4 linked regions of the Homo sapiens genome follow. The protein of the gene in region 1 interacts with the protein of each later gene in a pairwise test. Each region holds a gene or a part of one and is shown in the gene's direction. Other genes may lie near its edges.

Evidence for each region.
Region 2: the proteins of DYNC1I1 (region 1) and RUNDC3B interact in a two-hybrid assay, tested with the Homo sapiens proteins (one large-scale study listed by BioGRID and IntAct).
Region 3: the proteins of DYNC1I1 (region 1) and ACADM interact in a two-hybrid assay, tested with the Homo sapiens proteins (one large-scale study listed by BioGRID).
Region 4: the proteins of DYNC1I1 (region 1) and RAP1GAP interact in a two-hybrid assay, tested with the Homo sapiens proteins (one large-scale study listed by BioGRID and IntAct).

What each region holds. Positions count from the first base shown.
Region 1 is NC_000007.14:96,038,008-96,041,577, forward strand, and holds part of DYNC1I1 (cytoplasmic dynein 1 intermediate chain 1), read left to right. Parts: intron 1-1,269; coding exon 1,270-1,414; intron 1,415-3,570. UniProt on the Homo sapiens protein: Acts as one of several non-catalytic accessory components of the cytoplasmic dynein 1 complex that are thought to be involved in linking dynein to cargos and to adapter proteins that regulate dynein function.
Region 2 is NC_000007.14:87,767,841-87,771,410, forward strand, and holds part of RUNDC3B (RUN domain-containing protein 3B), read left to right. Parts: intron 1-2,740; coding exon 2,741-2,909; intron 2,910-3,570.
Region 3 is NC_000001.11:75,738,166-75,741,735, forward strand, and holds part of ACADM (medium-chain specific acyl-CoA dehydrogenase, mitochondrial isoform a precursor), read left to right. Parts: intron 1-1,814; coding exon 1,815-1,945; intron 1,946-3,570. UniProt on the Homo sapiens protein: Medium-chain specific acyl-CoA dehydrogenase is one of the acyl-CoA dehydrogenases that catalyze the first step of mitochondrial fatty acid beta-oxidation, an aerobic process breaking down fatty acids into acetyl-CoA and allowing the production of energy from fats.
Region 4 is NC_000001.11:21,613,788-21,617,357, reverse strand, and holds part of RAP1GAP (rap1 GTPase-activating protein 1), read left to right. Parts: coding exon 1-52; intron 53-3,268; coding exon 3,269-3,372; intron 3,373-3,570. UniProt on the Homo sapiens protein: GTPase activator for the nuclear Ras-related regulatory protein RAP-1A (KREV-1), converting it to the putatively inactive GDP-bound state.

The sequences.
Region 1 (3,570 bases):
TCAGGATGCTGTTAAGAGCAAGTGGAGTCTCACCAGGGGCCACTTCAAAGATCAGTTCCTCGGGTTCATTAGAACAAATTTAAATGATCATGTGTGGAACTGCTCTTAGCAGTTTCACTGGGCATAATTTTTGAGTGCCTGTTACATGGAACACGCACTGCCACACTTTGCTCATGATTCCAAATTTTGCTAAGCACATTGACATTTATTGGTGCTCCAGAGGCCCAAATGTTTTAATAACTGAGCTCGTTTTTATTCTTAGTGACATAATATTAGGATTCTACAATTCCTACATATTTGTCATATTTATAACCTCATGCACATGAATATTTTAAATATAGCATTTTTGGTATGTTTTCTCACATCTTCCTAATTGTATATGATTGCATGCAGAATACTATGTGATAATAGAGGGCTGCAAATAATAACAGCTTAGTTAAATAAGCAAGATATGTCTGTGTGTAATTTTTTAAATGTCTATCATTATTTCTCAAATGTGCTTCTGTTTTAAAAAAGGACTGAGACATAAGTTTGTCTCTTTTTCTTAGCTAGTTTATTCAACAAATATTTATTGAGCACTTACTATATGCCAGACACTTGGCAACAAGAAAGACAAGATACTTGCCCGTATGGGATTTACAGTGGATATGTAAATCTGTCTTCTGTTTTCAGTAAAGAGAAAACATTATTTTCTCCATATTATATTTAAATTATGTGCATTATTTTGTGGTGACAAGGGTTTCCACAAAGTGTTACATTTTCAGCTATGTTAAAGTAATTTAAGAAATTTACTTGAAAAAAATAAATGATTGTTCCTTCAAGGATGGATGGAGTTTTATAGTCAATAGGTTCCCCAAAAGGAGATAAAGCAGACCATGTGCAAAATGCTATCTCAAGAATAAAATAGTCTTATAAATATAAAAGCTTCAGAGACCTAAGTGTATTTGTTTCCATTAAAATAGCTGCATCAGCAATGATAGGCTTTGAGGAATTCTGCAAAAAGAATTAAATAATAAATATTGATATTAAATTCTGTATTTTAAAAAGATTTCATTGCCCTACATTGTTTTTAAATAATGAAAAATAGGGTAACATATTTGCAAACAATTTCTTTCAGGATAACTGTAAAAATGATTTCATTTTGGTGGTGTGTGGTTGTTCTAAATTATGGAGATGCAGAGTTGAGGGTTTTTTGTTTTGTTTTGTTTTTAAGCAATCATTGCTTTTCAGAGGTCACTGGAATTCTGCTCATGTGTGCTCTTCCTACAGCAAAGCAGGTATTGGTGAGGTCTTTGAAGGTCACCAAGGGCCAGTGACAGGAATTAACTGCCACATGGCAGTGGGCCCAATCGACTTTTCTCACCTGTTTGTCACATCATCATTTGACTGGACTGTCAAACTGTGGACCACCAAGGTAAGAATATCTTGACTGAAATTCTCAGATAATACATAAGGGCAGAGGATGGTTTTTCATTCCCTGGAAACAGTTGTCCCTAAAGCCTCTTCCAGGCAACCTGGCATTGGGAATTCATATACCTTCTGGTGAGCTCAGTCTACCTCAGAGCTAGTTAAGTCCATTTTATTTACTTTTACACATATAGGTAATACTTGAAAATATTCTAACTATAAAAAATTCAAACAATTCAAATAATGATAAAGCTGCAGTCCTCCTCTACCTACCCCAACCCCAACCCCATCCACAACACCCCCTTCACTGCCTGCACCTCAGTCCCCTCCCCAGGGGTAAACTTTTATCAGTTTCATGTCTATGTTCTGGAGCTTGGTGGTATCTACTTACTTACATATGTACCTATGGAAATATATGATTTGGGACTTGGGTTTTTTTTTGTTTGGTTCGTTGATTGGTTGTTTATTTTTATTTTGAGCTATTGGAAGTTTTTAAGCTGGTAAATGGCCCTATGTTATGTTTTTAAAGGTAATTCTGGCTGGGAGCTGTGGCTCACATCTGTAATCCCAGCACTTTGGGAGGCCGAGGTGGGTGGATCGCTTGAGGTCAGGAGTTTGAGACCAGCCTGGCCAACATGGTGAAGCCCCATTTCTACTAAAAATAGAAAAATTAGCTACATATGGTGGTACATGCCTGTAGTCCCAGCTACTCTCGAGGCTGAGGCAGGAGAATCACTTGAACCTGTCAGGCAGAGGTTGCAGTGAGCCGAGATTGGGCCACTGCATTCCAGCCTGGGTGACAGAGCCAGACTCCATCTCAAAATTAAAATAAAATAAAATAAAATAAAATAGTAAAATAAAATATAATTCTCTCCATGCTTGAGAGCAAGAAGAAAAGCTGAGACCACTTGGAAGGAAGGCACAATAATCTAGGAAAGAAATGACAGTGACTTAAACCAGTAGTCTGAGATGGAGAGAAATAAATGCATTTGAGAACCATTTAAGAGATAAAAGCCACAGAAACTGGTGATTGATTTGATAGAAGGAAGGTAGGAGAGGGAGTCATCAGCAGATAACCCAGGTTTAAGACCTGGGCAGCTGGTGAGTGTAGCACTCACTGCACTGGAGAACAGCAGGGGAAGGACATGCTGGGGCAGAGCTTTGCATATGTTGAGCTAAAGGTGCCCGGGAGAGGCATTTCAAGATCTCCATTAAGCAGTTTGATATGTGAGTCAGAAGAAGAGAGAGCCCTCCAAACAGAACGTATGCACTAGAATAGCAGTGATCTTCACAAATGAGTAGTTTTTTTTTTTTTTCTTTTTTTTGAAACATAGTCTCGCTCTGTCACCCAGGCTGGAGTGCAATGGCACTATCTTGGCTCACGGCAGCCTCTGCCTCCCAGGTGCAAGTGATTCTCCTGCCTCAACCTCCCTAGCAGCTGGGATTCCACAGCACACACCACCATGCCCACCTAATTTTTGTATTTTTAGTAGAGATGGGGTTTCGCATGTTGGCCAGGCTGGTCTTGAACTCCCAACCTCAAATGATCTGCCCGCCTTGTCCTGCCAAAGTGCTGGGATTACAGGCATGAGCCACCACACCTGGCCCAGCAGTGGATTTTAAAAGAAACACTAACATGCAATCTGGAGGGAGAGCAATACTTAGGAAATAAATAGAAATTGAACTAGAAAAGGGAGATGAAAAAGTAACCCAGGAAATAGAAGACAAATTAGAATTTTCTTTGCAGCTTCATGGGTATTAATGGAAAAAACCATGTTAAGAGGACAGAATTTGCTTTTAACTATATGAAAAGATAACAACCTCATTTATAAGAGAAATTAAAATTAAAACCAAGTTGAGAAACATATTTCCAACTATCAGATTGACAAAAATCTAAGTTTTGCAACATACTCTGTGATGAGGCCGAAAGAAACCAGCTGTTCTCATACATTTCCATTGGAAATGCAAAATGGCTCAACACTGTGGAAGAGGATTTAGCAATATCTAAAAATAATACATGTTTTAACAGAACAATTTCCACTTCTAGGAATCTATGCCAAAGATATACCAGCAAAAATAAGACAGAAGACATATGGAGAAGGACATTCACTGAAAGATTATTTGAATAGCAAAAGAATGAATACAACTCAAAAATCTCTATCA
Region 2 (3,570 bases), 8.3 Mb from region 1:
CCCTTGTCACAGGGCTTGCAACTTTCAGTTTAGATAGACACTATCTTTATCTCTAGGCCACAATGCAACTGAGGTTTGTGGAAAATGCCTGTCTGTCTACTACCAACAAAATAACCCAAGGGAGAAAACTTTTCACCCAGCCGAAAACAAACAACTCTGCTGGCGATCTGTACTCTATTGCAGGAATGTTGCCACTCTGTGTAGGGAGAGGGAGGTGAGTCATACCCTTTATTTAAGCCCAGGTGATAGGCACACTTTTAGTGGAGAATAGTACTGTCTCCAAGTGTGCCTGTGTCAACCTCTAGTAGGAAAAGCCTTCGCTGCATCTGCAGTAGTAGGTCAGGGCACAGGAGAAGGGCACAGTCACCCATCTTGTCACAAATGTGGGGTTCTCAGGCAGGAGAGAAGTTGCAATCTGGTTCCTTTGTCCCAGTGAGTGCTTTGGTGGGCTGCACCTCTCCCTCCCCTAGGAGTGGCCCACACCGAGGACTAGATCTCCAGGGATCCTGCAGCTCCCCAGGGTCCTGATGGTCCCCTCTGGTTGCAGATTCAGAGAAGACTCTGAGAAATGTTTGTGGGGAATCTGGTGATGCAGTGACACAAGGGCTGAGATTCCCTGAATCTGCACAACGAGTATCGCACCCACTGCTTCAGCTCAGGTTTGGGGGCAATGTGAGCCCAGCTGCACAAGCTGACCACCTGGTGCTCTGCCCACAGGATGTTTCCAGATTACTATTGGCAGAATTGCCCAGGTTTGCAGGGGCAGAGGGGCTCTCTGACAATTCACTTCTCAGCAGTTTGTCACATTGGTGAGGGGTGCAAAGAAATGCCCCTACCTACCCTTTCTATGGGACTCCAAGTTCCTTAATGGTCAGTCTCTCCCAGGCTCTTGCTGCCTTCCTTTTCTGCCTCCCAGCTGTTTCCTGCATGGTCTCCAACAGGTTTCAACACTCTTATCTCAACTTTCCACTCAGGCTATGATTATTCATCTATAAATTTGATCTGCTTTCTGAGGAGAACTGGCATCTGATGTATCTAGTCAGCCATCTTGGGAAAAAGTTGAATGAACTCTTTTTTTTTTTTCAATTATGATAGAATCAGAAATCCCAAATATTTAGAAAAACCATGTGTATTTTATAGATCACTCATTATTGTCCAACCACCACCACTCCTTTTTTTTGAGACGGAGTCTCTCTGTCACCCAGGCTGGAGTGCAGTGGCACAATCTCAGCTTACTGCAACCTCTACCTCCTGGGTTCAAATGATTCTTATGCCTCAGCCTCCCATGTAGCTGGGATTACAGGCATGTGCCACCACGCCCAGCTATTTTTTTTTTTTTTTTGTATTTTTAGTAGAGACAGGTTTTCACCATGTTGCCCAAGCTGGTCTTGAACTTCTGGCCTCAAGTGATCCGCCCACCTTGGCCTCCCAAAGGGCTGGTATTACAGGAATGAGCTAATATGCCCAGCCCCTTATATAATTGTCTTAACTGGACCTGAACATCTGGGGTTTGGCTATTGAGTTTAACTCATTTAAATTGTGTGTGATTACTTTTGTACTAGGGTTTATTTCTGCCATCTCCTTTTTTGTTTTGAATTTTCTTTGGCAGGTTTGGTTGTTTTTTGTTTTGTTTTGTTTTGTTTGCTCCTGCATTTGACAGATTGTGGTTTCTTTGAATACTCTCAAGGTAATACAGACTATTTTTATGCTTCTACTTATTTTTTAATATAATTGCTCATATTTAAAATTTTATTTTTCCATGTTTATTTTTAAGTATATTAACACCAGTATTTTTCTTCTTTTTTTTTATTATACTTTAAGTTCTGGGATACATGTGCAGAACGTGCAGGTTTGTTACATAGTTATACATGTGCCATGGTGGTTTGCTGCACCCATCAACCCATTATCTAGGTTTTAAGCCCTGCATGCATTAGGTATTTGTCCTAATGCTCTCCCTTCCCTTGCTCCCCACTGCCAACAGGCCGCGGTGTGTGATGTTCCCCTCCCTGTGTCCATGAATTAACACCAATATTTTTCTTCTAAATTGGACCATCATCTTAGCACATTTTTATCTCTATTGAGTTTCTCTTCTACCATTTTTTTCACCTTATGCTCTGCTTCTGTTCTATAGTCATATCCTGAGGAATTTTAGATATGGATTGTGATAGATGTTCTCTCTGCTCTACCTCTGCTTGTCCTTGTTCCCCTCAGTAGGAAATGCTTAGGAGTGACTGGATCTTCTGAACCTGTTGTTATCTTCTCTTTGCTAAAGCTGAGCTGATCTTGACACACTACCCTGTATTATACCCCACTGTTATTAGCTGGAACTGCTGTTGTCTGCCTTGTATTGAAGATTGAGCAGGCAGCAATCCACCTCGGGCAGTGAAAGGAACCCAGTTAGAAGGCTGTTTCCAGCGCATCTAGAGTTTCTGTTTCTCTTCTCTGGAAATCTTTTCTCTCTCTTTTGGGCATTCTTGGTTTATATCTTAATACCTTATATCTGTAAACCCACTTGAACTTCTGTAGTATCTCTAGGGTTGGTTTCCGAGAGGGAGTCAGCAGCCCATGCTAACTTGCCATTTTTTTTTCAGGAAGCTTAAATCTTTATAATATCATTATAATTTTGTATTTAGTACTAAATATTTTCGAATTTGTTCACCGTAGCTTGCAAATGTAAAAGTGTTTAAGAATCAAGTTGGAACATATTTTTAACTTTTTTTTAAAATTTTGATCTTCCCAGTTCTGATAGTATCAGCAGTGATGAGGAGGAGCTAAGGACTTTGGGAAGCAGTGGTAGCGAAAGCAGTACTCCAGAGAATGTCGGACCTCCTTTCCTCATGGATGAGAACAGTTGGTTCAACAAGTGTAAGAGAGTTAAACAAAAGTATCAGCTTACCCTGGAACAGAAGGTATTTTAAAATTATCAAAACGTACTTAATTTTATTCTAGTTATTGCCTTTGAACTGTGACTGCCAAAATATTTTTTAACTGAATAAAATTATTTATCCATTGCTGCTTCTCTTCTGTTTTTGAATTGTCCTCCTCTTAATGAAAAATCAGGCAACTGTAGAAGATACTTTTGTTTGTTGAACTTTTTCCAATTTTATGTTTTAACATAAAAACAAGCCATTATTTTAATAAGCAGCTTAATTTATGTATTTGAGATTTTAGTTTCTATGATAAATTTTATAAAAGATGATTGGTTTGTGAAAATGCAGTGATTGCCTAAGCACGTACATCTGATTTTTTGAAAATTAGATATTTTAGCAGCTCTTGTGTGTTAAGCACTGTAGTAGGCAAAGTGGAGTATATAACAGAAAGAAAACAAACTCTATTATTTTAAGGAGTTTGTAGCCATTACTTTTTTACTGTATTTTCTATTTTTCTCTTTTTGTCTTCTTTTAATATCATTATTCATAGATGATATATATATATAAGGAAAGCCCAATGGAATTAGTGATAGAAATATTCAAAAAATTAAAAATGCAGTGGGGAAATTGTCATAATTTTATAAATATAAATAATTTTATCTATACAGATAGCTATTGCTTAGAAAATATTTTTAAATCC
Region 3 (3,570 bases), on another chromosome or scaffold:
TTGGCCTCCCAATGTGCTGGAATTACAGGTGTGAGCCACCATGCCCAGCCAAGTATTGTTATTATTTTTTTTTTCTGAAATGGAGTCTCGCTCTGTTGCCTAGGCTGGAGTGCAGTGGCACCATCTCGGCTCACTGCAACCTCCACCTCCCAGGTTCAAGCAATTCTTCCTCAGCCTCCCAAGTAGCTGGGATTACAGGCGCCCGCCACCAAGCCTGGCTAAGTTTTTGTATTTTTAGTAGAGACAGGGTTTCACCATGTTGGCCAGGCTGGTCTCGAACTCCTAACCTCAGGTGACCCACCTGCCTCGGCCTCCCAAAGTGCTGGGATTACAAACCTGAAGCCTCAGCCACCACGCCCGGCCCTAAGTAATCATTTCTAGTGCCCCTATATATGCTTACTACTTTGAATTAAAATGTATATAGTTTCTTTCTTTTTTGTTGTATATTTTTAAAAAATAAATTGACATGGGTTCTCGGCATGTTGACCAGGCTGGTCTTGAACTCCTGGTCTCAAGCGATCCTCCCATCTCAGCCTCACAAAATGCTAGGATTACAGGTGGGGGGCCACCATGCTCGGCCCAGTTTCTTTCTTCTTTGGACTGTAAGTACCTTAAGGGCAAGTAACTTGTTTCTTTAGTATCCACAGTACCGGCCACTCTTGAATTAACTTGCACTAACACTTGCCTTCTACCACCCCCTTTTATCCATTACTGCTTGTGTCTTGTCACTCCTCTGTTTAAGAGCTCTAAGAGGCTCCCCTGTTTCTACCAGATAAAATTTTAAATTTGTAATGTGATATAAAAGATTCTCGTCGACCATTTCCTTCCTTTCTTTCCAGACTCATGTCTTACCATTCCCTTACATGCACAGAATTTACATACTGTGGAACTCTGGTACTTTCAGCATTAGAAACACTGGGTAACTCTGTTTCTTATCTTAGTGTCATAGCATATGCCATTACTTGTACCTGGAATGCATATTCTTCCTCTTTTTCCCTCCTCGCAAAGAAGCCATTTTCCTTTTTGAGACTTAATTTAAACATCCTCTGCCCTGGGAAACTAGTTTCTCAAGCCCCTTGTCTGACTTTCACACATAGAGTTGCAGTATAGTTATTTATCTTCACTGTTACATTGTGAAAATCTCTAGGACTGAATGTCTTTTACCTCTGGTTTCCCCATATCCTAATTTACATCGTGGTACATAGTAGATATTCAATACATGTTTGCATGAATGAATACATGTGAAATTGAATTTAATGAACTTGTTTAAAGCTATCTAACATTTTCACTTTTTATTAAATATATGATTTGTTGATATACCTATGCCTAATTTGAATTATATATTAAGTGTTTTTAGGCCAGGCACTGTGGCTCATACCTGTAGTCCCAGCACTTTGGGAGGCTGAGGCAGAGGATTGCCTGAGCCCAGGAGGTTGAGACCAGCCTAGGCAACACAGTGAGATGCCATGTCTACAAAAAATTTAAAATTAGCTGGGCATGGTGATGTGTGCTTGCAGTCTCAGCTATTATACACGGGAGGCTGAGGCGGGAGGATTTCCTGAGTCCAGGAAGCCAAGACTGCATTGAGCCTCTGCATTCCAGCCTGGGCAAGAGAGTGAGACCCTGTCTCTTACAAACAAAACAGAAAAGTTTTTACATTTGAGTGGTTTCTTTGATTTTGTAAGAACATTTTAATTTTAGATATTTAAAAATATTTAAAATACAGCTTAAAAAATAAAACAATCCTGTTTCCAAACAGTCAAAATTTAATCACTAACATTTAATTTCATTTCTCTTGTTTTTATATATTCAAGGCTTATTGTGTAACAGAACCTGGAGCAGGCTCTGATGTAGCTGGTATAAAGACCAAAGCAGAAAAGAAAGGAGATGAGTATATTATTAATGGTCAGAAGATGTGGATAACCAACGGAGGAAAAGCTAATTGGTATGTTGTTCAAAACATCTTTGTATATTTTTTCTTAATTGTTTTATCTTCAAATCTCTCTTTCTTTCTGTATATTTTTAAACCACTACAGTTAAGGTATGTTTGTGGAACTGGAAGGCCTAAAGGAGATTATAAACAGTTCAGTGATTTTCAAAAACTAATTTTAAGCCCCTGCACTGTTTTTTCAAATTAACTCTCAGAAGTTTAATGTGTAAAATAAAATACAAATGCGTGCTCTGTTTGAATCTGATTAGGAAGGCTAGCACTCTGTCTACTTGGCTTATTATCTCCACTCCTCATCTCCTATACCAGCCGCTCCTTGGAATCCCTAAAACCCTAAGGAAAAAGGAGAACCTTTGGTATAGTGCCTGTCTCCAGATGTCAGAAATAAACAGAGTCAGTCTTAAAACAGGTTATCTATTAGAGAAGACAGAATTTGACTTTAATAAAATCTGAAATTTTCTAATATATGGTCAAAAAATATGAAGTTCAACAAAGGATCAAAAATAATTTGTATAAATATAAAATACTAAAAAAAAACACTCGATTATTTGTTGATAAAAGATGAGGAAAGTTCAATAACTGTTAAGTTCAATAAGAATCAATAGTATGAGCCTTTAAAAAGCCAATGTAATTTTAAGCCAAAGTAATAGAAGTACAGCATCAAATAGAGAAAAAATGGTGACAGTTCTGGGCAACACATTTTAAAACATGTATTGAAAAACTTGACTAAATCTAGAAGCATGTAAGTATCTTGCATTAGGAGGAGCCTACAAAACATGTTCTGAAAAGCAAAGCCTTGGTTATTTTGGAAGAATCTTGAAGTTTTTCAAATATTATTACACAGAAAGATGATCAGGCTTATATGTTTACTTCAGGATGCCAGCTTAGAATTAATGAGTGAAAGTTAGAAAAATGTAGAATTTAGCTTAACATAAGGACAGGCTTTCTATCAGCAGTGCTGTTAAGTTGTCATGGGAAATACTGTATTTACCCATCACTACAAGTATATAGAGAGTTTCTAGAATAACTTTTTATTGATTGGAATAATGTACTAAATGACCTGTCTCTCTTTGTAAAAAATTCAGATTCAATATATTTGTGTGCCATATACTACAGTTTTCTAGCAAATAAAACATCATTTTTTTTCAGAGTGAGCCTACTAAAAAGTTACTTAGATTAAACATATCAGTCAATTCCTTATGAGCATCCTAAATATATTCAGTATTATGGAGTGCTATATCTTTACCTTTAACCAATTCCTGGTAATATCAGCAACTAATAAAAAGTGAAGAAACTATTAAAATTTAACAAGTTGAGAGAAATCTAACAATGCAGTTTGAAGTTTTCGTAATTTTAAAAACGGATTAGCCAGGTGCAATCACTCACGTCTACAATCCCAGCAGTTTTGGAGGCTGAGGCAGGAGGATTGCTTGAGCCCAGGGGTTCAAGACCAGCTTGGGCAACATAACGAGACCCCATCTTTACAAAATTAAAACAAAAAGAAAGAACTGATTACAACTGTTCACTGTTCATATAGTAAGGCAAATTAGGTAATATATGAAACCAGATAACAATTTTTACGATTTTGTTACTATTATTAAATAAAACTATAGAATGAGTGG
Region 4 (3,570 bases), on another chromosome or scaffold:
GCTCGAGTGCAACCCCACAGCCCGCATCTACCGGAAGCACTTTCTCGGCAAGGTGGGTGGCCGGCTGGTGCAGCGGGGCTGGCTGGGGTGGGTCACAGTTCAGCCCCATTCGAGGTGGGCCTGGGAGGGAGCAGAACCCATGGGCCAGGGCTGGGTGACAGTCCTAGAGCCCTGAGTGAATGTGCTCCCACCACACACACTCCCAGTCCCCAGGGAACATGCATGGCAGAATCACTTGTTCATTCAACATTGATTGCAAAGGCAGCATTATGGCATGGTGGTTCATGGCAGAGACTCTACCAGGGCTTGAATCCTGGCTCTGCCACCCACTACACAGGACATCGGGTAAATCGCTTAACTTCTCTGTGCCTCATTTCCTAATCTGTGAAAATGGTGGTTGGTGGTAATGATACCCACCTCCTGAGGTTGCTGTGAGGCTTTAGTGAGCTGATATCTGTAAGGTCTTTACAGTGGTGTCTGGGACAAAGTAAGTGCTCAGTCAGGGGTGGCAAATAATGAGCACTAGCTGTGTGCCTGGCCCTGTTCTAGGCACCAGGTATACAGCAGCCAACACAATAGACCCAGGCCCTCCCTTTGGGCAGCTTGGAGTTAGGAGAACAGTAATGTCATGGGTTGATGCAGCCCCTGCCCCACCACCAGCACAGAGCAGGGACCCTGCCCAGCAACAACTTGTCAGAGTGTTGTGGGAGCCAAGGGGAGGTCCCATGCCGGGAATGTGTGTGTCAGGTTGCAGGCCGGGTGCTGTCTCTTCGTCAGCATAGAGCCAAAATGGGGAAGTGTGTCGTGGGCTCTGGAGCCTCGTGGCATGTGTGGGAATCTTGGCTCTTCCATTAACTGTTTGTGTGACCTTGGGCAAGTTATTTAACTTTCCTCGTCGGTGAAAACAGGGATAATAAAAGTACACGCAAAGCTTCTAGAACCACACCTGGCACATGGTAAATACTCAGTTAATGTTAGCTGTTTTCATGTCTTCATAATTACTTGGTGATATCAGGATTATTCTGTTTTTGCAGAAGAGGAAACCGAAGCTCAGATAGGTAAATGATTTAGTCAAGGTCACACAATGACTAAGCCTGGGAATTGAACCAGCTTTGGCTGACCTTCCATTAAGGTGCATGGGAGAGATCATGCTCCTAGTCATTGTATGTGTGTGTGTGTGTGTGTGTGTGTGTGTGTGTGTGTGTGTGTGTGTGTGTGTGTTGGGAAGAGGGGGTGACTCCTTGGGGGTTCGGAAGATGTGTGACCTCAGTCTGGGCCTGGCCATTGGCCTAACTCTGGGAGACACCGGTGCTAACCAATGGAGTTAGGGGAGGATCCACTGTGACTGGGACTAAACCAGCAAGCCCAGGTTCAGGAGCCTTTGCCTGGGAACAAACCCAGAACCCAGCATGGAATTCCACTTCCCAGCTGAGCCCTAGAGGTGGAGCGAGACCTGCATCCTAGGCACCTGCTGTCCAGAGGTTCCCAGCTGGGTCTGGCAGGTGGTAGGATCTGAGGGTACTGTATATGCCAAACACATGGTTGGTACTCAGAAAAGTTTGTTGAAAGAGTGACAAGTGACAGATGAAGGTAGGAACAGATGAAGGTAGTGGACCTCGAGTGCAGCAGGCTCTGAAGAAGTGCAGACTGGAGGGTCAGAAGAGGCAGCTGGGCGCCCTGGCTTATACCTGTAATCCCAGCACTTTGGGAGGCCGAGGTGGGCAGATCACTTGAGGTCAGAAGTTCAAGACCAGCCTGAGCAACATGGCAGAACCCCATCTCTAACAAAAATACAAAAATTAGCCAGGTGTGGTGCTGGGCGCCTGTAATCCCAGCTACTCAGGAGGCTGAGGCAGGAGAATCGCTTGAACCTGGGAGGTGGAGATTGCAGTGAGCTGAGATGGTGCCACTGTACTCCAGCCTGGGCGACAGAGCAAGACTCCATCTCAAAAAAAAAAGAAGAGGCTTCATGTCCAGGATCAGATTAGCAGTAATGAGGGAGAAGCCCCAGGGCTGGCAGAATGGCAGGGCCCCTTCCTGACTCCAGGTGGGGTAATGGGGGAAGCAGCCAGGTGCTCAGGCACTGGGCCCTATCCTGGCAGAGAGGGGAGGTTAGGATGACTTTGGGCGTTGACTTCCTGGGACCCTGAGCCCGCTCTCCCACTGTGTCCCGGGGGCTCCTCTGGGCTTGGGGGTGTCCAAGGAACCTCCCCACTCTCTGGACTTCCCTGCCAGGGGCCTCCTTATCAAGTGCCTGCCACTCCCTCTCTGCTGGATGATGTCAAGCATTTGGGGGTTTCTGCCACTCTGTGCCCAGGCAGAGCTGGGGGACTCTGCCCCAGGTCCATTGAGAATGCCCCTGAGCTGCGGATTCGTGGGGCACATTCACTGGTCCCTGCCTCTATCTGCTCCTGGCCTCTGAGCACAGGTGTTCATGTTTGAACAGGATTTACTTCTAGGATGATTCCTGGGGCGGGTGTGGCCGGGCAGCCAGCTCCACTCCCAGAACTTGGGCTAGGGCTGGGGCTGAGGTTGGCAGGAGGAGCCCGGGGCCAGGCTGGGTGGTGTCTCCCTGAACTTCCAGCCCTCGGCTTTGGGACTTCCCCACCCGGAGGTGCCAGCCCTGGGCTCCTCTCTGGGGGTGCCATCCCTGCCGCAGCCACCCCTGATACTCCCCAGGGTGTCTTCCCAACCCTGTGCCCTCTCCTCCAGGTGAGACAGGAGGGTGGAAACCTGCCTGGCCAGCCACCCTGTGTGTTGTGAGATGTTTCGCTTCCTGTTTCTCATGGGCCCTGGCTTCAGGGGCCACAGAGTCACAGGTTGGGCAATCAGCTTTTGCTCATTGAGCACCTGCTGGGTGCCCAGCCCTGAGAAGGACCAGGGCTGAAGACAGGCATGCAGGTCCGAATATGGTCCAGACTCGATGAGCACCCAGAGATCCAGCGTTACTACCCACCTTCACTGAACTGAGCCAAGCACTTCATCCCTTTCAGTCCTGGCTGCCACCAAAGTACAGGGTTCCCTCCTATTTGGCAGACTAGGAAAGTGAGGCACAGAGCGGCCAAGTGACCTCCTCAGGCTGCCCAGCTGGTCAGTGGCAGAGTGGGGCTTTGAGTGCAGGTCTGTCTGATGTGGGGTCTGCTATCAGCCGTGACACCTGCTATCGGCGAAGGACCTGCATCTGGGAGTGGGTTGGCTTTCTGGCCTTGTTTCCAAAAGCCCCATGCTCAGCCTCACCCACTCCCCTGGCCCCCACCTCCCACTGCAGGAGCATTTCAATTACTACTCACTGGACGCTGCCCTCGGCCACCTTGTCTTCTCACTCAAGTACGATGTCATCGGGGACCAAGAGCACCTGCGGCTGCTGCTCAGGTGAGGGTGGTGGGGGAGTCCTGAGATGGCAGGAAGGGCTGAGGTCTTACAATCTCAGAGCCCATCTCATTTGACCCACTCTCTTCATCAAGGCCCATAGAGGGGCAGGGATTTGCTTGAGGTTGCACAGCAAGTTAGTACCCGAGTCAGCCTGACACCCATCATCACCTCTGGTCCTCGCTGTGGTCCACCCCCTTC